4 linked regions of the Homo sapiens genome follow. The protein of the gene in region 3 interacts with the protein of the main gene of each other region in a pairwise test. Each region holds a gene or a part of one and is shown on either strand. Other genes may lie near its edges.

Region 1 (7,025 bases), on a different chromosome or scaffold from region 3:
GAGCCCCGGGCCCCCTTGTCTCTGCATCCTGGAGGCCAGTCGTCCCGGCGCGGGGGCAGCTTGGCCACAGGCTCCTCTGGGGTCCGCTCCTTGGGCTTTCGGCCCCGCTTCTTTCCACCTGCCAGATTTTTCTTCTTTTCCTTCTTGGGCACCAATGAGTCCTGGCTCCTGTGTTTGGGAGGTGGGTCTGCTGATGTTCGGAACCAGTTCTGGGGAGAGAAAAGCGCTGATGAAGACCTGGGACTGGATGCTGAGCACCTGAGCCAGGCATAGCCTGAGAGCTGAAGACCTGTCAGCCTTCAGGACCAGGCAAGCACCTGCAGCAGGGCTGGACACAGCCTTTAGGACCAGGCAGGCACCTGCAGCAGGGGGCTGAACACAGCCTTCGGGACCAGGCAAGCACCTGCAGGGGGCTGGACACAGCCTTCGGGACCAGGCAAGCACCTGCAGCAGGGCTGGACACAGCCTTCGGGACCAGGCAAGCACCTGCAGCAGGGCTGGACACAGCCTTCTGGACCAGGCAAGCACCTGCAGCAGGGGGCTGGACACAGCCTTCAGGACCAGGCAGGCACCTGCCGCAGGGCTGGACACAGCCTTCAGGACCAGGCAGGCACCTGCCGCAGGGCTGGACACAGCCTTCAGGACCAGGCAGGCACCTGCCGCAGGGCTGGACACAGCCTTCAGGACCAGGCAGGCACCTGCCGCAGGGCTGGACACAGCCTTCGGGACCAGGCAGGCACCTGCAGCAGGGGGCTGGACACAGCCTTCGGGACCAGGCAAGCACCTGCAGGGGGCTGGACACAGCCTTCGGGACCAGGCAAGCACCTGCAGCAGGGCTGGACACAGCCTTCAGGACCAGGCAAGCACCTGCAGCAGGGCTGGACACAGCCTTCAGGACCAGGCAAGCACCTGCAGGGAGCTGGACACAGCCTTCAGGACCAGGCAAGCACCTGCAGCAGGGGGCTGGACACAGCCTTCAGGACCAGGCAAGCACCTGCAGCAGGGGGCTGGACACAGCCTTCGGGACCAGGCAAGCACCTGCAGGGGGCTGGACACAGCCTTCGGGACCAGGCAAGCACCTGCAGCAGGGCTGGACACAGCCTTCGGGACCAGGCAAGCACCTGCAGCAGGGCTGCTGGGGGCTGGAAAGGCGGACACCCCGAGGGCAGCTCCAGCTCAGGGTGCAAGCCTCCCAGTTCTCCCAGGGAAGCCAGACCCCACTTTGAGGAGAAACTACCAGATTTCTCCACATTGGCCACTCTCCCAGGCACACCCCATGCAGGCCACTGACCTCTCTACCCCCAAGGGGTGCCCAACCCCAGCCCTGTCCCCTCCTGGGCTAGCCCCCAGCCACAGGCCCTGGTGATGGCCCTCGCACCTCTGCGTGGGTCTTCAGGATGTGGTATTTGACGCCACTCTCAGAACTGAACTCCTTCGGACACAGCAGACAGCGGTACTTCCCTGCCAGGTGGGCCCCCTGCAATGCATAGGCAGGCCAGTGCCCCAGCCCTTGGAGGACCCAGATCTGTCCTAAGCCCCTACTCATGGCTAAAGGGTCAGAGTCAGCGGTGGCCCAAGGAAAGCTGTGGCTGTCTGTGCCAGACAATGCAGGGGGCCACTGAGTTACCAGGGCGGCAGGGGTGGTAGGGGAGAGGAAGGGTAGGGAGAGGCAGGTGCCCAGGGGAAGAGTTGCAGACCTTTGCCGAGCATCCCTTATTGTAAGCCAGTGTGCCATCTGCGTGGGTCGGGGTGCCCACCCATGCCTACATGGACGCAGAGCTCCAAGGACAGGACTAGGACTCGTTGTCTTGTGGCTGGGGTTGGGGCGAGGGAGGTGTCCTAGGCTGGCCATCAGCCACCGGCCAGTCTCTGGGTTCGTGGAAGAGGAGGCCACGTAGAAAAAGTAGGGGACAAGGCAGGGTCCCTCACTACTGTGTGGGAAGCCCGCGTGGGGTGAGCTGGGAGCTCTGAGTGCAGCGCACCTGGCCGTGGGGCAGGCCCCAGAACTGACCTTACTGCAGCTGGCGAGATGAGCCTTGAGTCCGGACACGCTGGAGTAGATGGCTTCACAGCACTGCAGGGAAGGGAGCCGTGGGCGAAGGCCTCTGGTGGGCACCCCACACCAAGATATACCCCTGCCCTACCCCAGGGGATCTCTGAGGCTCTTTGGGGCAAGTGAGGGGGTGTGAGTCCTGGGGACTGGGCAGGCTGGGCATGTGAGGCCTGGGGTGGGCTTGGGCACCTCCTGAAAGCTCTCAGCCTCTGTTCCTGCTCAGAGGGCCACACCCAGGCTCTGGCCCTGTATGGCTCCCCACGCCCCCCACCCGGCTGCCTCCGCTCACGTCGTTGGGACAGTTGACGTGGCCTTTCTCCTTCACTTCATTCTTCCATGCCTCTAGCAGCTGGGGGTTCAGCGTGGGGAGCCCTGGTCGAGTGTAGTTGAGCTGTGAATTCGACAGCACCAGGGTGAGCCTGAGGCCAGAAGACACCCCAGCTGCTCTAAGAACACTCGCCTCGGCAGCAGGCGACACTCGCCGCAGATGGCGGGGGCAGCGGGTGGCCCAGGTCACAGCAGTGGCTGTCCCAAGTCTCAGGCCAAGGCATGCCCCACGCAGAGGCCACGGCGCTGTCCACAGCCCTGGGGGGGGCAGCTCACCCGTGCGGTCTCGGGCACAAGGTCATCCTTCATGCGCCGCTTGGTCCAGTCGCGGGCCAGCTCGTCCTCCGCTATCTCCTGCAGGTGGAACACCGCCACCTGGGCCGACGTGCGGCGGACACGCCCGCTTGGGGTCCGCTCCACACCCAGCGGGTCCTCAGCCTCAGGGGACTTGTCTGTGGGCTCCTCAGGGGGCTGGAGGGCAGGAAGGCATGGAGGCTAGAGTGAGCCGCGGGAGCAAGAGTCAGGTCAGCGCGCGGCGAGGCCACCCTAAGGCCGGTGGACCCACAGGCCTCCCAGTGTGCTGGGGACATGGCTGACGCAGGCAACCCGAGGGAACACGGAGGTTTCACCCTCCCGCCCACCAGGACACACGTCTCTTACAGAGAGGGGTGGGAAACACACGCGTTGGGCGGTACATGGACAAATACAGTTGGCACCCAAGGCACACGGAACACACACGGCACACAGGAACAAGCACTGTGCCACAGAACAGAGAGCCACTCACGGGGGCCGTGTGCTCCGAGCGCACGTGGTAGTCGTGGCCAGCCTTGGATCGGTACGTCTTGCCACAGTGGGTGCAGGGGAAGGAGGGGCTGTCCACCTCGCAGGGCGGCTTCCCGCAGCGCCGCTGGTGGTACTGGTAGCCCATGAGGCTGGAGAAGGCAGCCCCGCAACCCTGGGGGTCAGGCCAGAGGGTGGGTGAGTGGCCAGCAGGGCCCCCCCACCCCACACTGCCGCGGCCCCCCACTGACCTCCTGGGGGCAGCGCAGCCGTCCCATCTGCTTCAGCACCTTGCGCAGCCTCTCGCGCTCCTCCTGCTCGCCCCCTTCGGAGGCCTCGGCGTCAGAGGGCTGGGGACAGGGTGAGCATCGGTGACCCGGCACCATCGCCACGGAGCCCTGCCCTGGCCCCGCCCCGCCCAGGTGTTGGGCCACCGTTGTCCGAGGTTAGAAACCGGGGGCACTGCGGTGAAGGTGGGGTGCGAGGTCAGAGGTCACGCTGGACGGGAGCTGGGGGCCCGACGGTACCTTGGCACTGTGCTCGGCCATAGTGTGGTAGTTGAGGCCGGCTTTGGACTTGAACTGCTTCCGGCAGTGCTGGCACTTGAGTGCATCCTGAAGCTGCAGATGGCCCACATGTGAGAAGCCTGCCTGGGGCCAGGGCGCCTCCCTCCCAGCGCCTTCCGGGAGCTGCCTTACCTTCTGACACACCTCCATGTGCTTCTTAAGCCCCACGAGAGTCTTCCGGGTGACCACGTTGCAGGTGGGGCAGACGGCTTCCCCGCGCTCATGGATGGCCCTCTGCCACTGCTCTTCAGGGCCACCTGTGGGTAAGGCAGGGGCCTCGAAGGCTTGTGGGGGCTGCTGGGTGGCCCAGACGCCAGGCACAGAATCCAGTCTCCACACTCAGCCCCCATCCCTGTGCTGTGGGATCTACCCGCCGTCTAGAGCTGCCCTGAGCCCCTGCCAGGCAGCCCCTACCTGGAGCTGGGTGGGCCACAGGGGCCGGTGCCTCCTTGCTGACAGTGATGGGGGCAGCTGGCACCTTCTTCCGGGCGTCCTCAGGGCCTGGCCCCTCCTGCTTCTTGGAGCGGTGAACTCGGGCCTTGTCCTCAGCTTTGACCAGGCCTGTGTGCACACATGGGGTGGAGAGAAACAGGGATGGGCTCAGGGGCTGTCACTCGGTGGACAGCCCCAGCCCTGGAGGTGCACACCGGGCTGGGGTCTTACCTTTGAGCCCAAAGGTCCCTGAGATGGATGGCTGCTCCCCTGTAAACTTTTTGGGTGTTTTCTGTTTCCTTCCTGACTCGGGGAGAGAAAACGGGGGCCAAGATTCTGGTGAAATAACCGTCAGGAGGCCGAGCCTGCCCCGGCCGCCACCCCTGGAGCTCTCATCTTACTGTGCTTTGTGCGCTCCGGGTCCTCCTCAGGCGGGGACGCAGGGCCTGCAGCCTTCAGTGCCTCCATGCCCCCTGACGGCCTGCTGCCTGGCGACAAGGAGCCACTGCTGGTGTCTGCACTCAGCTGGAAGGCCGAGCTCTGGCCCATGGAGGAGGGGCCGTACTCCCCATTCTCTGGCCTGGCCTGCTTGGGTGGAATTGGGCAGGTGTCCAGGCTGTCCGCAGCCCTGCAGGGAGCAGGTGAGGTGAGGGCCAGGAGGGCCTAACTGTGGGCCCCATTACCCCCAGGCCGTGGCCGAGGAGCACCCTGACCTGGAACGAGCCCCCATACCTTTTCTCACCACTGTTCCCCGACCTGGGACAAGCCCCCATACCTTTTCTTACCACTGTTCCCTGACCTGGGACGAGCCCCCATACCTTTTCTCACCACTGTTCCCTGACCTGGGACGAGCCCCCATACCTTTTCTCACCACTGTTCCCCGACCTGGGACGAGCCCCCATACCTTTTCTCACCACTGTTCCCTGACCTGGGACGAGCCCCCATACCTTTTCTCACCACTGTTCCTCCCCGACCTGGGACGAGCCCCCATACCTTTTCTCACCACTGTTCCCCGACCTGGGACGAGCCCCCATACCTTTTCTCACCACTGTTCCCTGACCTGGAACGAGCCCCCATACCTTTTCTCACCACTGTTCCCCGACCTGGGACGAGCCCCCATACCTTTTCTCACCACTGTTCCCCGACCTGGGACGAGCCCCCATACCTTTTCTCACCACTGTTCCCCGACCTGGGACGAGCCCCCATACCTTTTCTCACCACTGTTCCCCGACCTGGGACGAGCCCCCATACCTTTTCTCACCACTGTTCCCCGACCTGGGACGAGCCCCCATACCTTTTCTCACCACTGTTCCCTGACCTGGGACGAGCCCCCATACCTTTTCTCACCACTGTTCCCCGACCTGGGACGAGCCCCCATACCTTTTCTTACCACTGTTCCCCGACCTGGGACGAGCCCCCATACCTTTTCTTACCACTGTTCCTCCCCGACCTGGGACGAGCCCCCATACCTTTTCTCACCACTGTTCCTCCCCAACCTGGGACGAGCCCCCATACCTTTTCTCACCACTGTTCCTCCCCGACCTGGGACGAGCCCCCATACCTTTTCTCACCACTGTTCCCTGACCTGGGACGAGCCCCCATACCTTTTCTTACCACTGTTCCTCCCCGACCTGGGACGAGCCCCCATACCTTTTCTTACCACTGTTCCTCCCCGACCTGGGACGAGCCCCCATACCTTTTCTTACCACTGTTCCTCCCCGACCTGGGACGAGCCCCCATACCTTTTCTTACCACTGTTCCCCGACCTGGGACGAGCCCCCATACCTTTTCTCACCACTGTTCCCTGACCTGGGACGAGCCCCCATACCTTTTCTTACCACTGTTCCCTGACCTGGGACGAGCCCCCATACCTTTTCTCACCACTGTTCCTCCCCGACCTGGGACGAGCCCCCATACCTTTTCTCACCACTGTTCCCCGACCTGGGACGAGCCCCCATACCTTTTCTTACCACTGTTCCTCCCTGACCTGGGACGAGCCCCCATACCTTTTCTTACCACTGTTCCTCCCCGACCTGGGACGAGCCCCCATACCTTTTCTTACCACTGTTCCTCCCTGTGGCACGAGGTGCTTTGTTCTCCGACCTGGTCAGCAGCACCATTTTGCAGGGCGGTGTGTGTCTGCTGATAGCAATGGGCCTGCTGACTGTCACCGGCTTGCTGACCACAATGGGCCTGCTGACTGTCACTGGCTTGGTGACCGGCACGGGTTTCGTAACTGTCACAAGCTTTGTTACCGTAATGGGTTTGGTGACAGGTACGGGTTTGGTGACCGGCACAGACTTGGTGACTGTGATGGGTTTGGTGACCGGCATGGCCTTGGTGACGGGCATGGGCCTGCTGACTGTGACAGGTTTGGTGACTGGCACGGGCCTAGTGACCGGGATGGCCTTGGTGACTGGCATGGGTCTGCCGACCGAGACTGGCTTGCTGATGCCAATGGGTTTGCTGACACCCACAGGTTTGCCAATAGTGACAGGTTTGCTCACTCCGATGGGCTTGCTGACCCCAACAGGCCGGCTGATGGTGACCGGCCTGCTGATGGGCCCAGGCTTGGAGGCAGGCAGGGGTCGGTCCATGTGGTTCCAGATCCGGTGTTTCTCCAGCTGGGTCTTAGAGGTGAATGCGGCCTCGCAGAAGGGGCAGGGGAAGGCCAGGCGATCTGAGATGGCACCCTGGGCAGGGAAGGGAAGGTTTGGGACAGGGCCCCAAGGGCCTCTGCCCAAACACACCCCGAGGCCTCCTCTCCCCCGACCCACAGTCCCTTACCCCTTGGCACCGCTGGTAATGGTACTTGAGCCCGTAGATGCTGGGGAACTCCAGCCAGCACCCTGAGTTTGGACACTTCA
Region 2 (7,025 bases), on a different chromosome or scaffold from region 3:
TCAGCCATCCTGGATTAAAGGTGAATTTGAGCCACAGACTATTCTCCATTCATAAGAAGTAACCCAGAGAATGGCGGGTCAGTATTGAGAGAAAGGATAAGGACAGACAACTGGAAACTAAGGCTTACCAATTTCTGTAGTTACTAACACAACAAAGCGGTCAAAAAGTACTGGGGCACACCTATACACAAGATGTCATTAAGTATGGATGATTCACTAAGGCAAAATAAGGCAAGCAAGGATGACTATGCTGGTCTCATCGAGCTAAATGTTAGTGACCTCAACATAAAATGTCTATGACATCCTTCAGCGATGAGAAACATCTCAAGACTCACCTCATGCTTGGAGAAGAGCCGCACGGCCTCCAGCTGGTGGAAAATAGGGTAGTGCTGGGAGTCGATCTGGTCACGCCTGTAGACATCACCCACCACCAGGAAGGCATCCAGTCCCGCGTGCAGCAAGTCCCACTGGTGTGCAGACGTGTGCGCTCTCAGCATGTGAGTCCGATTCAGGTAATAGTTGTCCCCCTTCTTCCTGCTGGGGTGATCAGCTGGGATGAGCAGGCTGTCAAAGTTCTGCCAGGTCGTGACCACTGGAGAAAGGTTGTCGTAGACCGAGAACAACGGGGTCCCAAAGCGGCCCACATACTGCTTGTAGAAGTGCTCCTTCACCCTCTCCTTGATCAGCCACAGAGGGTGATGCTGCTGGTTGTGCAGGTTCCTGCCAACTCTGGTGAGGACCTTCCGGGTGAGGTTGCTGTGGTCGTCCTGAGGGTAGGATTTGCCCAGCAGCTCCACCACACTGCCTGGAGCTCTTTGGGTGGCACACTCTGCTGCAGGAGGCCTCGATCCCCAGGCCTGGTGCTGATGGCCTCTGGAGATGTGACTGGCCTTACTCACCAGGTAGACATATGCATGGGCACCTCTCCTGAGAGCTGAGCCCACCATTGTAGAAACTTCTCACAGGTTCTGGAAAGAGCACACAGGCAAAGCACAAGTCAGGTGTCACTCTGTGGAAAGCAAGTGTGTTCTTTGCATCTCCCACCAGCTCCCTCTTGTCCTACTGGCATGTTTCCCCCACTACGACCTCCACACAGCTGAAAGAGCCAATTAAAGAAATCTGACAGACATGTGATACTTAATACACTAAATGAAAAGATTCCTGGAAGTCACTTTTATATCCCTAATCTCTAGTTGTCCTTCCTTTGTCATTCAGATCCTTGGCTTTGTAGAAAACCTCGTTTATTATGTTATCATGTCCTGAACTCGTGATGTGGAAAAAAACTGTAAACACGACAACCTTTACATTATAGAACCAAAAAACTTCAGAGAGATCCCCTAAAATACAGAACTTAATTGGACCCTATTAAGGGTCCCACTAATAAAGGAAGCAAATGATTAGACAGAGGCTTCCGAAGGAGAGTGGAAGAGAAGAGATTTAAGAGCCATCCTTCACATTTCTGCCGACCATCCTCATAACTACAGAGTTCTCTTTATCTTTGACATAGCATAACTTCTGTATTACTTCACTAGATCACAAAGTGACATTACTAATTTTTTTAAAAAGTTTTAAACAAAATACACCACTTTAGATTGTGGTTAACTTTAATATTTTAAAGATAAAATAGAAAATCTCAGGAAATATTGTACAAAGTGATAGACTATATCAATGGACAGCTGTAAATGCAAATCTTCTCACATCTGGTCATGTCACTTAAACTTAATACCTTTGTGGCATCCTCTCAATTACACCTTTGGCAAAAGGGCAAATTTCTACTACACACCCACAATTAACCAGAAACAGGACTAAACTTGTTGGGGAAGAGTGACAGAGCAGCCAGAAGGCAGAGCACTGACCTAGATTTTTAAGTAAATAAAATGCCAAACTTTACAGCTGAAAGTCACCTCAGCTGTCATCTAGTATAGGCGGTTCAAGTCACGGATGAGGTGAGAAGGACCTAAGTATAACTGGCAAAACTCTAAGGTATTGAAAGAGTTCAATAAGACAACCGCAAAGGGCTGTGAACCACTCACACAGTGTCTTCTTCCCACTGCCACAGAAGCCAGTTTTAAACTCACTCAGGGATCCCAATAAGGAGAGTCTTGAGATGTCACATCCCATTGTTCACAAATAATTTACATTCACAAACTTAAATTATAAAAATCCATCTTCTAAAATGTGGAATTCTTCCCTACCGGGCTATTTTAAAGCATACAACTATGTGGCTGTTTTACTTCAAGGGCCGTGCAATCATACCAAGAAAATATGTAACTTCATGATATGAAGCTGCATTAGCAAAGAATTATATTGTTCCAAGTCACTATCAAAAGCACAGTCTGTCCCTGGACAACACAATCCACCTGACTCCAAATTGGAACTGAGGAAATCTAGCTGCAAGTTGAATGGCTGTGCTTGTGTGTGATTGCTTCTTAGAAGCTGTGCACAGCACCTTTGTCTGAGACTGTCATCATGGGAGACATTTTCAAAGATACCCAGGAACTCTCTGGTTTTATTCACTTATGGCGTTATTTTGTCAGAGTTGTTTCAAAAGGGCTTTTGGCTGAGCTTCAACTGAAATGTCTTCCCATCTAGTGTTCAGTGACTTGTCACTGCAGTGGATATGAATTTTAAACATGCATATGCAGCCTTACACATCTTGGCACAAAATCAAACTGTTAGGTTATTAGCTACCTAGCTCAGCACCCTTGCCAAAACACAAGAAAAGCTTTCTTCCTCCCAAAGGCATATGTGTTAGACAAAGTTCAGAATTGTTCTCGGAAAGGTGCTTCTGATCCAGTTATTTGTGGGCTGCTGTCGATGCTTTTCCTTCCCAGTTTCCAGCTCTTCACACATCCAAACCCACACTTGGGTTCCATTCCCAGGGATGTGCCCCAGCCTCGTGTCCCTTCCTTGCTCTCCTCACGCAACCCCCAGCTTGCCGATGAAAGTTTGAGGTTCTTGCCCTGGTTTTCAGGCCTTCTATCTATCTGCTCAGCCCTGCTTACATTCTCCACTGTCATTCACCCCACACAGAAAAGTATCTGTCCTTTCTGTTACTATCTCTAACAGAGAGAGATGGATGACTAGGAGAGCCTTCCCACTTCTATCTGAGAAGTGACTTCCTTTCCTTCTACCTCTATCGAATTTCTCTATAAGAAATATATCATCTGGAAATACATAAGAGACCCAGGAGGATAAGACCAACGACATTCATACTTCTATTAATACATTGTTCTTCCATTTCATCCCTTCAACAGTTCTGTGATGTAAGTATTGTTCGTACCACTTTACCAACAAAGAATATAAAGCTCAAAAAGATCACGTAACTAGCATAAATTCATATGCCTAGCTAGCCATGAGACAGTTCAGAATTCTTGGCAATTCAAATATAGCTGACCCTCAAACAACATGGATTGAACTGTGCAGATCCACTTACATGCAGATTCTTTTCAGTAACAGTTACACTGAGTGTGCCTGCCCTTCCTGCCTCCCCTTCCGCCTCCCCTATCTCTTCTACCTCTGCCACCCCTGAGAAGGCAAGACCAACCCCTCCTCTTCCTCTTCAGCCTACTCAACATGAAGATAAGAATAAAGATCTTTAGGATGATCTACTTCCACTTAATAAATAGTAAATACATTTTCTTTCCTCATGATTTTCTTAATAACATTTTCTTTTCTCTAGTTTATTGTAATACAGTATATAATGCCTATAACATACAAAATATGTGTTAATCAATTGTTTATGTTATCAGTAAAGCCTCCAGTTAACAATTAATAGTTAAGTTAGGGGAAGTCAAAAGGTATACAGGAATTTTCAACTGACTGAGGGAGGGTAATCAGTTGTCCAGGGGTCAAGTGCATTTCTCAGTAGGGTGTGGTGGCTCACGCCTATGATCCTAACACTCTGGAAGGCCAAGGCGAAAGGATCACTTGGGCCCAGGAGTTTGAGAGCAGCCTGGGCAACATGACAAGACCCTATCTCTACAAAAAAAAAAAAAAAAAAAAAATTTTATTTAATAAATTAGCCGGGTATGGTGGCACACACCTGCAGTCCCAGCTACTGGGGAGCTAAGGCAGGAGGACTGCATGAACCCAGGAGTTCAGGCTTCAGTAAGCCAGGATTGCACCACTGCACTCCAGCTTGGGTGACAGAGTGAGACTCTGCCTCACTAAAAAAAAAAAAAAAAAAAAAAAAAAAAAGAAAGTATACTTCTCAATCAAAGGTCCAAGATTGTTAAGTTCAAATGGTATCTCTGCAAGGACCTCCCTTAACTTCTATTTTATCTAATTGAGATTATACATCAATGTGTTTTTAAATACATAAATAAATGCATGAATAAGTAAATCCAATAAAACACATTAGCTTAGATAGTAAAAATGAAATAAGTATTTACAGACCCAAGGGCCAAATCTGCCCACAGTAGTCTGTTTGGGGTTTTTTTTTTTGGCTTTGGCTTTTTTTTGTTTCTGAGACAGGGTCTTACTCTGTCACCCAGGCTGGAGTGCAGTGGGATGATCATGGCTTACTGGAGCATCAACCTCCCAGACTCAAGTGATCCTCCTGTCTCAGGCTCCAGTGGCTCCCTGCCCCAGAGATAGCTAGGACTACAGGTGCAAGCCACTATGCCCGGCTAGCTTTTGTATTTTTTGTAGAGATGAGGTTTCGCCACATTGCCCAGGCTGGTCTCAAACTCCTGCCTCAAGTGAGCTGCCCACCTCAGCCTCCCAAAGTGCTGGGATTACAGGCTTAAGCCATCGTGCCTTGCCCATAGTCTGTTTTTACAAATAAAGTTTGTTGGAACACAGCAACAGCCATTTCTTGATTTATCATTTGCCATGGCTTTCTTGCTATCAAGGTAAGATTGAATAGCTGCTATAGAGATTGTGTTGCTCACAAAGCCTAAATACTCACTCTCTGGTCTGTTATAGAGTTTGCTGAGCCCTGTTTTAGCTTAACCTACTGAAAAATTTTTCTACACTATTAATAAAATCTTCCTAGTCACAAATATATGTAGATTATAAAGTCACAAAAAAGGAGCAAGAATACAAATGTGGACGTGAAGTATGTTAGCACTGGTACAAAAGAAACAATCAGACCAACTATAAGAAGAGAAAATACAATATAATGGGCAATAGGCCAGACTTCGCAGAGATACTAATGTTGGTTTGATCCTAGGTTGATCTCTTAGGTGCCATGTATCATCCTTAGAAACGTTATTTGACCCTTCTGGCCTCAAGGTTCTCATCTGTAAAACAGAGAAATATAATACTTATCTCATAATGAAAAGATTATACTAGATCATGTTCATCAGCTAATTAACTCATTGCCCAGTGTGTAACGGGTAAGATGAGCTGAATTCAGGGTTAAAAGTGACCCAGAGATTTCTAGAGATCGGGTAACGGATGAACTAATAAAGTCATTCACTGACACAGAGAACTCAGAATGGATTTTTGTTGTTTGTTCAGATCATCTTTTGTAGAGGGAAACAGATTTGGACAATGGAAGTTCAGTATGAATGAGATAGCCACATTACAATTTCTGTAAGGCAATTCGAGTTATATTATAGTTTGGAAATGAGGTAAGACATTAATCCTGGAAATGTAGACCTTGGAGGTAATTTGCATAGACGTAAGAGTTAATATCACAAGCGTATATAAGAATCCATGGGAGGCTAAGAGCAAGATATAAGTGGGCAAAAGATAGAAGAATACTTGGAACTTATCATATTTAAGGGAAGGGGATGTAAGGAGTAAGACAGAGGGGACGTAAAGGGTGCCACAGCACAGAAGTCAGGGGAAAAGACATCTAGAAGGAAACGGGCCTGTTTCCTGGACCCAAATACCACTCAATGTGCAATGTTTAGCATGCCGTATTATTACTACCTGCTGTTGTCTGTATTCCTACTAGCCTGTGTGGTTCTTGAGAGTAGAACACACAAACACATATATATACACATACTCTTTCTCTCCTCTCTCTCTTATATTTATCATCGTATGCCCATAATCTAGCACTACATGTGATGCTGGGTGGAAGACGCGGGAAGAAGAGAAATAGGAAGAAAAAGAAAAGAATGGAAGGAAATTGGTCAGCAAAAACAAAACAAAGAAGGCTGCCTCTTTGGAAGGGGCAGTAAAGAACTATTTAAAAACTCAATAGAGTGAAGAGACAACTCACAGAATGGGAAAAAGTATTTACAAGCCATGTATCTGGGAAAAAGCTAATGTCCAAAATACATAAGGAACTCACGCAACTCAACAGCAAGAAAGCAAATAACTTAAAAATGGGCAAAGGGGCTGGGCGAGGTGGCTCATGCCTGTAATCCCAGCACTTTGGGAGGCCGAGGTGGGTGGAGCATGAGGGCAGGAGAACGAGACCATCCTGGCTAACACGGTGAAACCCCATCTCTACTAAAAATATAAAAAATTAGCCAAGCATGGTGGCGGGCACCTGTAGTCCCAGCTACTTGGGAGGCTGAGGCAGGAGAATGGTGTGAACCCAGGAGGCAGAGCTTGCAGTGGGCCGAGATCGCGCCACTGCACTCCAGCCTGGGCGACAGAGTGAGACTCCATGTCAAAAAAAAAAAAAAAAAGAAAGAAAGAAAAATGGGCAAAGGATCTGAATAAAGATTTCTGAAAAGAAGACATATAAATGGTCAATAGGTATGTGAAAAAAAATCCTCAAAATCACTAGTCATCAGAGAAATGCAAATCAAAAGCACAATGAGATAGATACACTTTACACCTGTTAGAACCGCTATTACCAAAAAGAAAAGGTAAGTGTTGGTGAGGATGTGGAGAAAAAGGAACCACTGTACACTGTTGGTGGGAATTTAGAGGAGTATAACCATTATGGGAAATAGTATGGAGGTTCAAAAAAATTTAAAAATAGAACTATTAACATATGATCCAGCAATCCCACTTCTGTGTATATAACACAGGAAATGAAATCAGCATGTCAAAGAGACATCTGCACCCCCTTGTTCACTGCAGCATTATTCACAATGGCCAAGATATGGGATCCACCT
Region 3 (7,192 bases):
TGAGTCTTCTGACCAAGGGAACACAAGTTCTATCACTATTGGGGAATTGGGTTCCTGATATAATAGCTATTGTTTATTGAATTACATGAGGAAAATTTTACTATTCCTATCTTACAGATGAGGAAATTAAGGCTTAAAGAGTTCCCGTGTCTCACCGGCAGCCTCTCTCTCACTATGTGACCAAGCAAAATACACAGCTTTGTAGCTGTTTCTTGGTCCTGTCAGCCAAGCTGTATTTTGAGGAAGGGGTGTGCATTTTGGATGGATTGAAAAGCAAAAATGGCTTTACATTTATTCAGTCTTATAACAAACATTGATCGCTTTACTAGGTGTCAGGTACTGTGCTATGGATACATTGTTGATAAGGTTGGATGCTGTTCAGAGATTTTTTTAGTTTAGTCAGGAAGCCAGGCAGTGGAGTAGGCAATGAAATGAACTGTGATAAGGGTGACCATGGTGGAGTGTAGTGCACTATGGCAATATACAGCAGGGGTAGCTAACCTACTCTTGCAGTCTGGAAAGGCTTCTTCTGAGAGGGTGTAATGTCTAAACTGGGGAAGAGTTAACCAGAAGGAAAGGGGAGGCTAAGAGAGTGTTCCAAACAGGGAACTGCAGGTACAAAAGTCCAGGGGCAAGAGAGAGTACAGACAAGGTCCAGTTCTACTGCAGACTTTTGGGGAAGGGATAATGCTAGAGGAGAGGCTGGAGAGTGAGACAGACCTCATAATACAGAGTACAGACTTCAACCCAAGGGCAGTGAGAAATCATTGAAAGTTTGTTTTAGCAGGGAAATAAAACGACAGGTTTTGCCTACAGGCAGTCCCCAACTCAACGATGGTTCGACTTAGGATTTTTCAACTTTACGATGGTGCGAAATGATTCAGTATGCTCCTCACCTTATGATGCAGTTATATCAGATAAACCCATTTTAAGCTGAAAATATGGTGAAGTTGAAGAAGCACTTCTGCCTTACGATATTTTCAATTTATAATGGATGGGTTTATTCAGACATAACTCCATTGTAAGTCGTAAAGCTTCTGTACTGAAAAAAATCACTTGACCTCAGGGTATAAGATGGATTGCAGGGAGCAAGCCTTGGCCAGGAGACTTTTGCATTGGTTTCGGAGAGGAAAGACGGTGACTTGACATATATAGTGGTGATGAGGGGAGGACAGATTTGGAAGATGTTTAGGAAGCAGAATTAATAGAACTTGGTGATTGATAGGACTTGGTTGGATTTGAGGTTAAGGGAGAAGGAGGACATAGGGTTGACGCTCAGATTTCTAGTTTAAGCAGCTAACAGGATTGTGCCATTTACTCAGAGAATGTTAGAGGAGCCAGTTTCATGAGGCAGAGAAGATGAGATCAGTTTAGGATATTGGGTGCTTCTGAGACAGCCATTGGAGATGCTAGTAGTTAGTTGAGTTTTTAATTCCAAGAAAGACTGGGCTGGAAATATGGATTAGGGAGTCACCTGCATATACAGATTATAATTAAAGTCTTGGGAACGAAGAGGGCCTTTGGAGATCCCAGCTCCAGTTTAGACTGTGGAGAGGCCACCTGAGGTCATGAGCACTATTGGAGCATGCCCTATTAGCATATGCGTCTTCTACTTCTTCCCCTTCACTCATCTCTGCTTCCAGTTATCCCTTGAAAACACAGGCTGTTCATCCCAGTTGTGCCCATTGCTACCACCAACTCTTGCATGGGCCTCCTTTAATGGCCTCCCAACATTTCATAAGATTTCCTCTCGCATCCTCACCCCAAAGGATCAAAGCTTCCAAATATTAGTAGTTGTGTGGATATTTTGGATGTAATTGGAAGGAAGAATCAAAGTTCTCCTTCCTCATCTGGACACAGGAAAGGAGGGAACACATTATGGTTAATTCTGAAGATGTTGCTCACAGCAGGTTCTAGATGCAATCCGATAGCTCCCCTCTGTTCCTAGTGCTTTCAGTCCTCCCTGCTTCCACTCTGGTAGGAAACTCTCCTCAGGATCAGAGAAAAGCCGTGGCCTTGACCAGGGAAACAGAGGCTGATTCTCAGGGGAGATGAGGTCAGGGAGACAATGCAACTAGGACGAAGAAGCCAAATAGTTTGGCACAAATTAATTTCCCAAAAGATATTAACCTCGTTTCTTTCCACATTCCCTAAGGCTACACTAAGATTATAAAAGGTGTTCAAAATGTTGAGATGAAAATAATATGCATGACTTGTTTGCATATAATTTTCATACTCATTTACTATCTAAATACAAAGGAGTCATTTTCCTTCTCCATTCTACTTCCTCCACCCCTTGCCCCTGATGTTTTAGTCTGGGCAAAAGTAGTTGGCTGGTTTTTAAAAAATTTTTTTGAGACGGAATCTCCCTCTATCGCCCAGGCCTGAGTGCAATGGCACAATCTCGGCTCTCTGCAACCTCCGCCTCCTGGGTTCACGCGATTCTTCTGCCTCAGCCTCCCAAGTAGCTGGGACTACAGGTGCACGCCACCACACCGGCTAATTTTTGTATTCTTAGTAGAGACGGGGTTTCACCATACTGGCCAGGCTGGTTGCAAACTCCTGACCTCGTGATCCCGCCGCCTCTGCCTTCCAAAGTGCTGGGATTACAGGCGTGAGCCACCGCTCCCGGCCGTTGGCTGGTATTTAATTAGGTATGTTTAGCTTCATCTAGGGTTTCTTTAAAAAAAATTATTATTTATTTTTGAGAATTTTTTTGAGACGGAGTCTTGCTCTGTCGCCCAGGCTGGAGTGCAGTGGCCGTGATATTGGCTCACTGCAACCTCTGTCTCCCGGGTTCAAGCGATTCTCCCGCCTCAGCCTCTCGAGTGGCTGGGACTATAGGCGTGCGCCACCACGCCTGGCTAATTTTTGTATTTTTAGTAGAGATAGGGCTTCACCATGTTGGCCAGGCTGGTCTGAACTCTTGACTTCAAGTGATCCGCCCGCCTCAGCCTCCCAAAGTGGTGGGATTACAGGCGTGAGCCACCGCGCCCGGCTGCTTCAGCCAGGGTTTCTTTTCCTTATTCTTGATCCTTTTAAAATAGTCAATATCAGCCTCTTTTCCATCCTGATCATTTTCATTTGCAATTTCCTCTACACGGCATTTCTTTTCTTCCTCTTAATACTTACTCTGTATCACCAGTCTTCTGTGGACCAAAACCAAAGGGAGAAGGTGTTCGCTAGCCCTAAAACCAGGCCTTCGATCTCCACAGTCACCTGAAATGAGAAAAATCTCATTTCCCAACACCAGGGGGTGTCTATCCCTCTAACTGTCCTACCCTTAAGGTAGAGATTAGTCCCAAACCTTTTCCTCACTCCTTTTCACTGCTTCTACATACACACTATATCTCTTTCCCTCCCTCTCAAAGTAGAGATTAGTCCCATTTTCCTGACTCCTTTTCACTGCTTTTACAAATCACAAAACTTTTGGGTCCAGAAGGTGGTGCCTTTTTATTGCAGTTTATCTGTTTGTCTCTCATTCTCTCTGGACAAGCTTGTCCTTTCCTTTGTCTGCGCACCCTTCGGTCTCTGCATCGTCCACACTCCTCTTTGCTCCTCAGCTCTCCCTTTCTTTCGCTACCTCTTCCCTCTTCCACCTCTCTCTGTGGGCTTCGTCGCCTTTCAGGGCTATCTTTACGTACACGTCTCTGAACCTCTTTATGCATTTGTCTTCTTTCTCTCTGTCTTCCTCTTTATGGCTCTCTCCTTGTCTCACCATTTCTGTACCAGTCTCTCTCCATCTCTCCCACAGTCCCCACGCTGGGAACAAAGTCACGGTGCTAGCGCAGAACATGCCTCCTGTCGTCCGGTCCCGGGACGCGACACATTCCACCATGCCCCTCCGCGCATTCCAACTGCAGACAAAGAGTCCCCGTCCCCTACCCCCACACTCTTTCCTATTCCAATTCTTCAGTGTTGTAGGGGCAGCTGCCCCAACTGCCCCTGCCCGCCTCTCACGTCCAGTCCGCGGGTCTCCACATCCAGGGCAGTTAGCGCCTTCCGCTGCACGCACACCAGCTATCCCTGCGCGGACACCCCCGGCGCTCTCGCACACACCGCGCTCCGCCCCCCTAGGAAAGTAGATCCGGCCAGGCAGACAAAAGTTTGGGAGAGAAGTTCGGTCTGTGGCTAGCGTGAGAGCTAGGGGGGCGGGGGCCGGGGAGAGTGGGGCAGTCGGGCGAGTCGACGCGTGAACAGATAGACCTGCGGACTGGACAGCCGCGGCCAGAGACCCTGCTAGCCCCGCTCAGCCCCAGATGCGCGGGGGGACGCAGCCCCTCCCGCTGGGGGATGCTGTGGGATTCCTGGCGCAGGGCATCCAGGCCGCCCGCTAAGCCCCTGTGCCTCCCCTGTGCCCCTGGGGAACCAGAGTCCGGCTGCAGGGAAAGAGAACCGGCCGCCGAGACGCCGCAGGGTGCCAGGCGGGGAGGGGGCGAGAGGCCCCAGGCCCGAGGGCATGGAGCGGTTAGGAGAGAAAGCCAGTCGCCTGCTGGAGAAGTTCGGCCGCAGAAAGGGTGAATCTAGCCGGTCTGGGTCTGACGGGACCCCCGGGCCGGGCAAGGGGCGCCTAAGTGGGTTGGGGGGACCTAGGAAGTCAGGGCCCCGAGGAGCTACTGGGGGACCTGGGGATGAGCCGTTGGAGCCGGCCCGGGAGCAAGGTTCCCTGGACGCTGAGCGAAATCAGCGCGGCTCCTTTGAGGCGCCGCGCTACGAAGGCTCTTTTCCCGCGGGGCCGCCGCCCACCCGGGCCTTGCCTCTACCTCAGTCGTTGCCCCCCGATTTTCGGCTGGAGCCCACGGCCCCGGCCCTCAGCCCCCGCTCTAGCTTCGCCAGTAGCTCGGCCAGCGACGCGAGCAAGCCGTCCAGCCCCCGGGGCAGCCTGCTGCTGGACGGGGCGGGGGCTGGCGGAGCTGGAGGTAGCCGGCCCTGCAGCAATCGCACCAGCGGCATCAGCATGGGCTACGACCAGCGCCACGGGAGCCCCTTGCCAGCGGGGCCGTGCCTGTTTGGCCCACCCCTGGCCGGAGCACCGGCAGGCTATTCTCCCGGAGGGGTCCCGTCCGCCTACCCGGAGCTCCACGCCGCCCTGGACCGATTGTACGCTCAGCGGCCCGCGGGGTTCGGCTGCCAGGAAAGCCGCCACTCGTATCCCCCGGCCCTGGGCAGCCCTGGAGCTCTAGCCGGGGCCGGAGTGGGAGCGGCGGGGCCCTTGGAGAGACGGGGGGCGCAACCCGGACGACACTCTGTGACCGGCTACGGGGACTGCGCCGTGGGCGCCCGGTACCAGGACGAGCTAACAGCTTTGCTTCGCCTGACGGTGGGCACCGGTGGGCGAGAAGCCGGAGCCCGCGGAGAACCCTCGGGGATTGAGCCGTCGGGTCTGGAGGAGCCACCAGGTCCTTTCGTTCCGGAGGCCGCCCGGGCCCGGATGCGGGAGCCAGAGGCCAGGGAGGACTACTTCGGTGAGTGAGAGAAGTGGTTAGGGACGGGAAGGGACCCGTCACGGTATTCGGTTCTCCACTGCCCCGACGGCCCAAAGTGCCGGTGCCCCGGGGTCCGAGGTGAAGACGCGGGACTAGGAAAGAAGCAAGAGGGATGGATGGGGGCGGCCCCAGAGCACTGTCCCCTTCCTGCTAGTTTTCAGATGAACCAGGGCTCCTTATTTCTGCTAAATTCAACCCCCCTGGTATCTCGTGAGTCCGTTTCTCAAGCATTTGAACCTCGGTTTTTTGCGGCAGGAGGCCTCGTAGGGAAGGGACCAAGTGGGGCAGTGAAGGCGCATCCCCCCCAACTTGCTCCCCCCTTTCACGGCGGTGCCCCTGGAGGTTTGTGCGCGCCGCGCCCCCACCCGGGCCCAGGCTCCGCCCGCAGGAATTCGGAGAATGCGCGGGTGGGGGGGCGGGGCAGGCTGGCCGCGTGCGTGCCGACTCCTGCCCGGGCGCTCCAGGTGCCCGCGGGCGGGGCGGCTGCCGCCGCGCGGCGGAGGGGTGGGGTTCGGGGATCGGGGGACGCTCCCTAGCATACGCGGAGTAGTGGCGGCTGTCGGGGAAATGGAGCCTGGGAGACAGGATGGAGCGCCCTGGGACCCAACTGCTGTCCCTCCCCAGTCCTGTTGGCTAGGTGCGTGCGTGGGCATTTAATCAGAGACCCAGTAGTACCAGCTTCTATTTTCCCCATCCTCCGGAAGTCAGGGTAAAAGTCATGACTACTGGGACACCATTACCTCTGGATGGATAACGACCCTGTGTTATTGCCAGAAATAACTTGGCCTTGAATTCTGCTTATAACCTCTCAGAATTCAGGCCAGAAGTAGCGCCTTACTTCCTGACACTGTTAAGGAAACCTGGTCGCTGTCTCCCTCCCCTACTCTGTTCAGGAAGTATTGATTGATTATATGTCTCAGCTATGAGGAACATTAGGGTCTTGAAAGATCTTTTAGTCAAAATTCACAGGCACTGCTACACACATAAAAAACTTCGAATCTGATTGTGATTGGAAAGAAGTGGCAGGCTTACCGCCTAAGGGCTGTGGGCCTCTTTCACTTTTCTAAGCATCTCTTCTTACCACTCATGCCCCACTCCTGGACCCCATGCTGTAGAACTCTATGGCTAGAAAAGTGAATAGGAAGAGGAACGCGGCCAGGGAGGGATGGTTGGGTAGGAGGTTCAGAGGTAGCAGGGCGGCAGGCTATAAGGGCATAACTCAACCCCCAGCCTCCACCCCCATTCTTTTCCCCACCTCCAAATCCACCGAGAGGAAAGCCCAGAGGAGATGATGCCAAACCGCTTTGATCAAGGAAGACTGAATGACAGGGCCCATTTAGCAGTTTCATTTTGAGGCCCAGGAGAGGTGGCTAGTAAAGAAGTCTTTTTGGCTGAACCATCAGAGCCAAAAGGAAGAAAGGAACTCAGAGAAACTGCAATAAAATGGCAGGAAGAACATAGGTATAGATATGCTGGGTTAGAGGAGGTGAGGCCAACGTGCCTGAGCAGTTTCGTTTGCTTTTCCCATAACGTCCAAGGTTTCCTAAAGAATGGCTCCGACAGGACCCCCTGGCATGGCAATCTTGGGGCAGATCTTCACTTCCATGAGGAAGCCACATTTTGAATTCAGAGATGGGGGCCCCTTCTCCTTGGGAGTCAGGTTGCCTCCTTTGACAGAACCCCTACATACCCCTTGTGCCGCTAGC
Region 4 (6,363 bases), on a different chromosome or scaffold from region 3:
CTGGCAGACCAATTCCAGGATCTTAGCACTTAAACACCACACCACGGGGGGGCAGGGGGGTGCTGGGGGGGTGCGGTTGGAGGGGGTGGGGTTCCCCTCCTAGGGGAGGAGAGGATGAGGCTCAGAGAAGTTACAGAAGCCCAGGAAGTGGCAAAACCTAGGGATTAACCAAAGCGTAGGGACCAAGCAGGGCCCCTGAACACCTGTGTCCTTTCCCAGGTTTTCGGAATCGGTGGCTTGGTTGTCCTTCTCTCCTTGCCGCCCACCAAAGAGCCACTCCCCAGCCTCAACACCATCTTCCATCTTTACAGAATACCCAGGGTCATCCCAGGGAAACTGAGGACCCCAATTTTTCATCGCAACACCACACACAAGCTGAGGGAGTAACTGTGCTCACACACACCCAGTCCGCTTTGGGGGGCCCAAGGAGCCCCCCTACTCTAGATGGGGTAGCCCTGCCCTGGTCTTCAGGCCAGCCCACACCCAGGAGACTCAGAATCTAAAAAACAAAGTACAAACTTTATTTTGTTTCTTTACAAAGGCACGGTGGCCTCTTGGTTTTTTTCTCCCCACTTTCTTAACAAAATATAATAGCTTCTCCTTGAACACGAAGACCTCAAAATTGTAAAAAAAAAAAAAAAAGAAAGAAAAAAAAGAAAAACAAAACAAAAACAGAAAGCAAACCAAAAAGAAATAAAAAACCAACAACAAACAAAACAAAAAGAGAGAGACAGACATTTTTGGGGTGGAAGATGAGACCTGGAGGCAGAGGTGGGGGCTGGGGGGTGGGAGAGTGGCGAATTCTAGTGCCGAGATGGGGAAGGGGGAGGGGGGCACAGCAGCAGCAAACCCCAACCAAGAAGCAACGGAGACCTCCGGGCCCCCAGAATGCCCCAGCCTAGTCTTACCCCCAACCATGTAAGTGCTTAAAGGAGAAAGAAGAAAACCCAAAAAGAGGAAGGAAAGGGGATTGAAGGCTGACAATCCCAGGCTGGCTCTGGGCAGGGAAGAAATAACCTGGGGTTTTGTTTAATTTTCCCTGTTCTTAAAAAACATATTTAAAGGAAAAAATGCTTTTTGGCAGAGAGAGGCCAGGCATCTCCGTGTCAGCTTCCTCCAGCCCCCGGGGCCGAGGCCCCGCCCTGGGGTGCCGATGCTCCCACACGCTCTGCGACACCCCAGCCCCGGGACCTCGGGTTGAGTGGCTTCGTTCAAAGGTCGATTTACAGTATTGAAAAAGAGGTCATAAAAGAGACCCAAATGACATCGTAATTTTGTAAAAATTTCTCACTCATTCGCCCATGTCTCTCCCTGTGGCTGCCCCGGCTCCCTCCAGCCCCCAGAAGGGAGAGGAGGGCTGGGGGGGTAGTCAGGGAAGCTCCCCGTCCCCCGACGGCTCCTCCCGGCTCTGGTCCATGGCGTCACTGTCTGAGGCCTCGGAGTCGGAGGCGGTGTCAGAGGTGGGGGCCTCCGGGCAGCTGCGGACAGGCTTCACGATGACAGCTCGCCGCTGCTCCTCCTCCAGCTCCTGCTTTTCCTGGGTGCCCTCGATGTGCTGGATTGCCTGGACAGGGACGAACCACTGAGAAGGCTCGGCCGGGGATACATGGCCAGCCAGGAGACAGTGGGGGCTCTCAGCCAGCCACTGTCACCCCCAAAACACATAGCCCAGAAAAAAGCCTGGCAAAGCAGCAGGGGAGGCCCGCTAGAGTACAGGAAAAACAAACTCCTTTTACTTTTTTTTTGGAGACAAGCTCTCGCTATATCACCCAGGCTAGAGTGCAGTGGCATGATCATAGCTTACTGCAGTCAGACTCCTGGGCTCCAGCGATCCTCCTACTGCTCCCTCCCTAGTAGCTGGAACCACAGGGGTGCGCCACCATCCCCAGCTAACTTCTGTATTTTTGGTAGAGACGAGGGGGTTCTTGCTATGTTGCCCAAGCTGATCTCGAACTCCTGACCTCAGGCAATCTTCCTGCCTCAACCTCCAAAAGTCCCGGGATTACAGGCATAAGCCACCACGCCTGACCCAGGAACAAACTTTCAAAACCCCTCTGTTAAGTTGAAAAATCCATTCTGGGAAGATGACAGTCCCAGTGCTGCTTAGAAATTATATTATATGTATCAGCCAGGCGCAGTGGCTCACGCCTGTAATCCCAACACTTTGGGAGGCCAAGACGGGAGGATCACCTGACGTCAGGAGTTCGAGACCAGCCCCTCAACAGAGGCCAGAAGCCTACTAAAAATACAAAATTTGCCAGGCGTGGTGGCACATGCCTATAATCCCAGCTACTTGGGAGGCTGAGGCAGGAGAATCACTTGAACCTGGGAGGAGGAGGTTGCGATGAGCTGAGATAGCACCATTGCACTCCAGCCTGGGCAATAAGAGCGAAACTCTATCTCAAAAAAAAAGAAAAAAAAAGAAATAATATGGACCTTTCATATGTTTTTGTTTGTTTGTTTTTTGAGAAAGAGTCTCACCGTGTCACCCAGGCTGGAGTTCAGTGGTGCAATCTCAGCTCACTGCAACTTCCACCTCCCATGTTCAAGCGATTCTCCTGCCTCAGCCTCCCGAATAGCTGGGATTACAGGCGTGCACCACCACGTCAGGCTAATTTTTGTATTTTTAATAGAGATGGGGTTTTCACCATGTTGGCCAGGCTGGTCTCGAACTCCTGACCTCAAGTGATCCACCCACTTTGGCCTCCCAAAGTGCTGGGATTGCAGGTGTGAGCCACCACACCCGGCCATATGTTTATGTATTTTAAAGCTTGCCTATTAACTTATTAAAGGCGTTTGTTATTAATTGTATTACACAATTTGCAAAGTTTATGAGCAATTAAAATTCGAGGAGATTGATGGATTTTTTTTCCTGTTTTGGCTTTTTTGGTTATTTATTTATTATTTACTGATTTCTGATCTTGGGCTCCTCAAGGGGCCCTGTTCAAGGGTGAATGCAACTGTAACTTCAGGCTTGACCCACAAAGCTTCCTCCTCTGTAGGAGGCCCAACTATCACCAGCCCTGCCACCTGTATCTCCATCCAGGTCCTAGGAGATGGAGCTGAGACAATGTTCCGGACCAACCCAAGAGCTGGATGCAGGAACTCTGTAACCAGGGGGCTCTGGGAGCAAAGGACCCTCTCCGGAAACCCCATATTGAGGGAAGGGACAGTCTTCCTGGCCAACTCCTCCTACTGGCGTGGTAGGCCCTGCCCCGATCTCTGGCCCTCACATTCTCCACTTGCAGATCCAGGGACGGGGCCCCCCAAGGCTTCCAGCCCTCCACCCCTTCCCACACAAGCACCATCTTCCTCCGCTTCTGCCCCTCTTTTCCAGTCTCCCCTAAAGAGCCTGTTCCCGGAGTATGACCCCCACAAGCTGCCCCTTTCTCAAGCTCAGGTACCTGCACGATGGTGTCCAGATTTTGCCGGGATGTGGAAACAGAGTTGATGACCGAGGAGGGGCCCATGGTGACGACATTGATGTGGTGGGAGGGAGGAGGAGGCGGTGCTGGCACGATCACCGTGGGGTGGTGGGTGGGGGCCGGAGGGGGCAGAAGCTGCAAGACAGAGGCCCTCAGCCTTTCTCTCAAGGCTTCTCTTGGCCCATCCACCTCCCTTTCATGCAGAGCTGGCCAATGTATAACTGCCTCTGCCCCTTTATATTAAGAAGCAGAGAGGACGTGGCCTAGGGAGAGGCTTCCGCCATTCAAGATCACCTGTCCCCTTCCCGGTCCCCAGAGCCCACTCCCGGGCGCCTCCTGCTCACCTGGGTCCGCAGCTGCTGCTGTTCCCGCTCCAGCTTCTCCTGGTGCAGCAGCCTCACCTGTTCCTGCTGCTGCTGCAGCTGCACCTGCTGCGCAATCACCTTGAGCTTTTCCGGGTACATGTGGGCCTCCAGCGAGCGCACCTGGAGGCAGGACAACCTGGGCTCAGGGCCAAGGCCGGGAGCACACCCTGCCCTGTCAGTCTCACAGCAGCTCATTCACTCCTGCTGAAAACCCTAGCACAGGGCGGGCCCCTCTCAACAGAGGCCAGAAGCCTTTCCAGAGCCCTTCAGCCCCCGGCTCCTCTCGCCTCCCACCTCGGCCTCCACTGGACCATGCTCCCTCCTGCCCGAGTCTTTGCCTATGCTATTCCCTCTGCCGGGAACACCTTTCTCTGTCCTTTGGTTAACTATGAGACTCAACTTCCCACTTCCATGGAGATGCCGTGGGGCGTCCCTTGAAAAACCCCTCCTGATGCCACAGCTCCAGCCTGGCCTTCAATATGGTTTTTTGTTTTTGTTTTTTGGTTTTTTTGAGCCATGGTCTCCTTCTGTCACTCAGGCTGCAGTGTAGTGGCACAATCATGGCTCACTGCAGCCTCCACCTCCTGGGCTCAAGCAATCCTCCCAGCTCAGCCTCCTGAGTAACCGGGACTACAGGCACACCCCACCACACCTGGCTAATTTTTGTATCTTTTTTGGTAGAGACAGAGTCTCACTATGCTTCCCAGGCTGATCTCAAACTCCTGGGCTCAAGCGATCCTCCCACCTCAGCCCCGCAAAGTGCTGGGATTATAGGTGTGAGCCACCATACCCAGCCCATCACGGTTACATTTTTTTTTTTTTGAGATGGAGTCTCGCTCTGTCTCCCAGACTGGAGTGCAGTGGCACGATCTCGGCTCACTGCAAGCTCTGCCTCCCAGGTTCACGCCATTCTCCTGCCTCAGCCTCCCAAACAGCGGGGACTACAGGCACCCACCACCACGCCCGGCTAATTTTTTTTTTTTTTGTATTTTTAGTAGAGACGGGGTTTCACCGTGTTAGCCAGGATGGTATCGATCTGCTGACCTCAGGTGATCCACCCGCCTCGGCCTCCCACAGCATGGTTACATTTTTGAGATCCTTTGGCTAATCTCCCCCACCCCAACGCAGACGGTGGCCCCCAAGGGCAGAGACGTGTCTGGCTTGCTCCCCACTCCTAGGCCTGGCACCGCAGTAGGTGCTCCTGTAAATAGGGCTCCACCGAGGGCCGCAGAGCAAGAGGCGCGACCCCAGGCTCCACGCCCTCTGCACCGCGCGCCGTGCCCAGCAGAGGGCGCTGCCTCACCTGCTCCTCCAGCATCATGCGCACCGAGCGCTCCTTGTCCAGCTGCTGCCGCAGCTCAATCATCTCCCGCCGCAGGTCCTCCGCCTTCTCGTCCTCCCAGATGTCCGGGGAGCCTATGCCTTCGTCCTTGTCCTCTGCCCGCCGTCGCTTGGGGGACGAGCCGCTCAGCTCCTGGGGACCCCAAGGAGTCGGTCAGTGTGCCTGACACCTCGGTACCACCACGGAGATTGGGGTTCCATCGCAGCCCCCCAAAGCTGCCCAACACAGGTGAATCTTCATTAGGGAGCCCCTTCTGCAAGTCCAACAAACCAGCCAAATGCCAGGAGAATGGGCTGCTTTACATAACAGTCACCTGGCTCCTTCCAGAGCCCACTCCACCGCACTTGACCGATGGGGAAACTGAGGCCGGGGCAGGAAAAAAAGTGCCTGGAAGTACTTGTCAGTGGGCAAGAAGGGGCCTGCAGCCACACCTGAGTCCCAGGCCCATGGCTGGGTCCAAGGCATGCCCATGCCAGGGAGAGGGAGCCATGAAGGACAGGGCGCACCTGGATGAAGCGCTTGAGCTGTGTGTTCTGCTGCAAGAGCCTGGTCTTCTCCTGCTCCAGGGAGAAGATGTACTCGGCTGTCTGCTGGAGAATGGCTGCCTGAGGGCGTGGAAAAGCCGAGAGTCAGGCTGGCAGTGTTTACCAGAGCTCACTTTCCTCTCCCAGCGGGAACCTGCCGGCTCCTCCAGGAAGCCCTCCCTGCTCTCACCCACCTTGCTGAGCTTCTCTCCGTCTGTGTGGGGGATGAGGGTCTTGAGGGACTGGAATCCCGCGTTGATGCTCTGCATGCGTCTCCGCTCGTTGCTGTTGGCGATCTCCCGCCGAATCCGCCGCTCCTGGTCCCGCTGAGTCTCGGGGGTTAGTGGAATGTTGGCAAGGCTGCCAGAGAGGACAGGGACAGGCTCGGCCAAGGCGCCCTCTTCATCATTCATCTCCAGAGGGCCCCAGTGGAAACTGCATCCCTCCCCTGCTGCAAAAGATGCCAGGCCACCCCCAGAGAGTGATGGAGGGGTGCTCTCTGGGACACCGGGGCGGACTGAATCAGCTGGCTGCGGGTAAGATAGTCCGCTCAGAACCCACCCCGGGCCAGGCACAGTAATCCCAGTTCTTTGGGAGGTCAAGGCCAAGGATCATTGAGCCTAAGAGTTTGAGATCAGCCTAGGCAACGTAGTGAGACCCTGTCTCTACAAAAAAATAAAATTAGCCAGGTGTGGTGGTGCATGCCT

What was found.
Region 1: the proteins of AJUBA (region 3) and ZNF512B interact in binary tests that used the Homo sapiens proteins (3 or more experiments, as listed by UniProt).
Region 2: the proteins of AJUBA (region 3) and FARS2 interact in binary tests that used the Homo sapiens proteins (3 or more experiments, as listed by UniProt).
Region 4: the proteins of AJUBA (region 3) and TFAP4 interact in binary tests that used the Homo sapiens proteins (3 or more experiments, as listed by UniProt).

The regions. Positions count from the first base shown.
Region 1 is NC_000020.11:63,959,931-63,966,955, forward strand, and holds part of ZNF512B (zinc finger protein 512B), read right to left. Parts: coding exon 6,946-7,025; intron 6,852-6,945; coding exon 6,211-6,851; intron 6,079-6,210; exon of another isoform or gene 5,626-6,078; coding exon of another isoform or gene 5,582-5,625; intron 5,574-5,581; exon of another isoform or gene 4,975-5,573; coding exon of another isoform or gene 4,934-4,974; intron 4,787-4,933; coding exon 4,560-4,786; intron 4,466-4,559; coding exon of another isoform or gene 4,462-4,465; coding exon 4,390-4,461; intron 4,288-4,389; coding exon 4,141-4,287; intron 3,984-4,140; coding exon 3,859-3,983; intron 3,781-3,858; coding exon 3,688-3,780; intron 3,511-3,687; coding exon 3,412-3,510; intron 3,336-3,411; coding exon 3,165-3,335; intron 2,852-3,164; coding exon 2,657-2,851; intron 2,445-2,656; coding exon 2,343-2,444; intron 2,075-2,342; coding exon 2,012-2,074; intron 1,478-2,011; coding exon 1,379-1,477; intron 210-1,378; coding exon 1-209. UniProt on the Homo sapiens protein: Involved in transcriptional regulation by repressing gene expression. Associates with the nucleosome remodeling and histone deacetylase (NuRD) complex, which promotes transcriptional repression by histone deacetylation and nucleosome remodeling.
Region 2 is NC_000006.12:5,362,493-5,369,517, reverse strand, and holds part of FARS2 (phenylalanine--tRNA ligase, mitochondrial), read right to left. Parts: intron 969-7,025; 5' UTR 948-968; coding exon 336-947; intron 1-335. UniProt on the Homo sapiens protein: Is responsible for the charging of tRNA(Phe) with phenylalanine in mitochondrial translation.
Region 3 is NC_000014.9:22,979,534-22,986,725, reverse strand, and holds the start of AJUBA (LIM domain-containing protein ajuba), read left to right. Parts: upstream 1-4,174; 5' UTR 4,175-4,459; coding exon 4,460-5,465; intron 5,466-7,192.
Region 4 is NC_000016.10:4,256,686-4,263,048, forward strand, and holds the end of TFAP4 (transcription factor AP-4), read right to left. Parts: intron 6,017-6,363; coding exon 5,851-6,016; intron 5,738-5,850; coding exon 5,639-5,737; intron 5,265-5,638; coding exon 5,094-5,264; intron 3,911-5,093; coding exon 3,770-3,910; intron 3,561-3,769; coding exon 3,405-3,560; intron 1,565-3,404; coding exon 1,370-1,564; 3' UTR 501-1,369; downstream 1-500.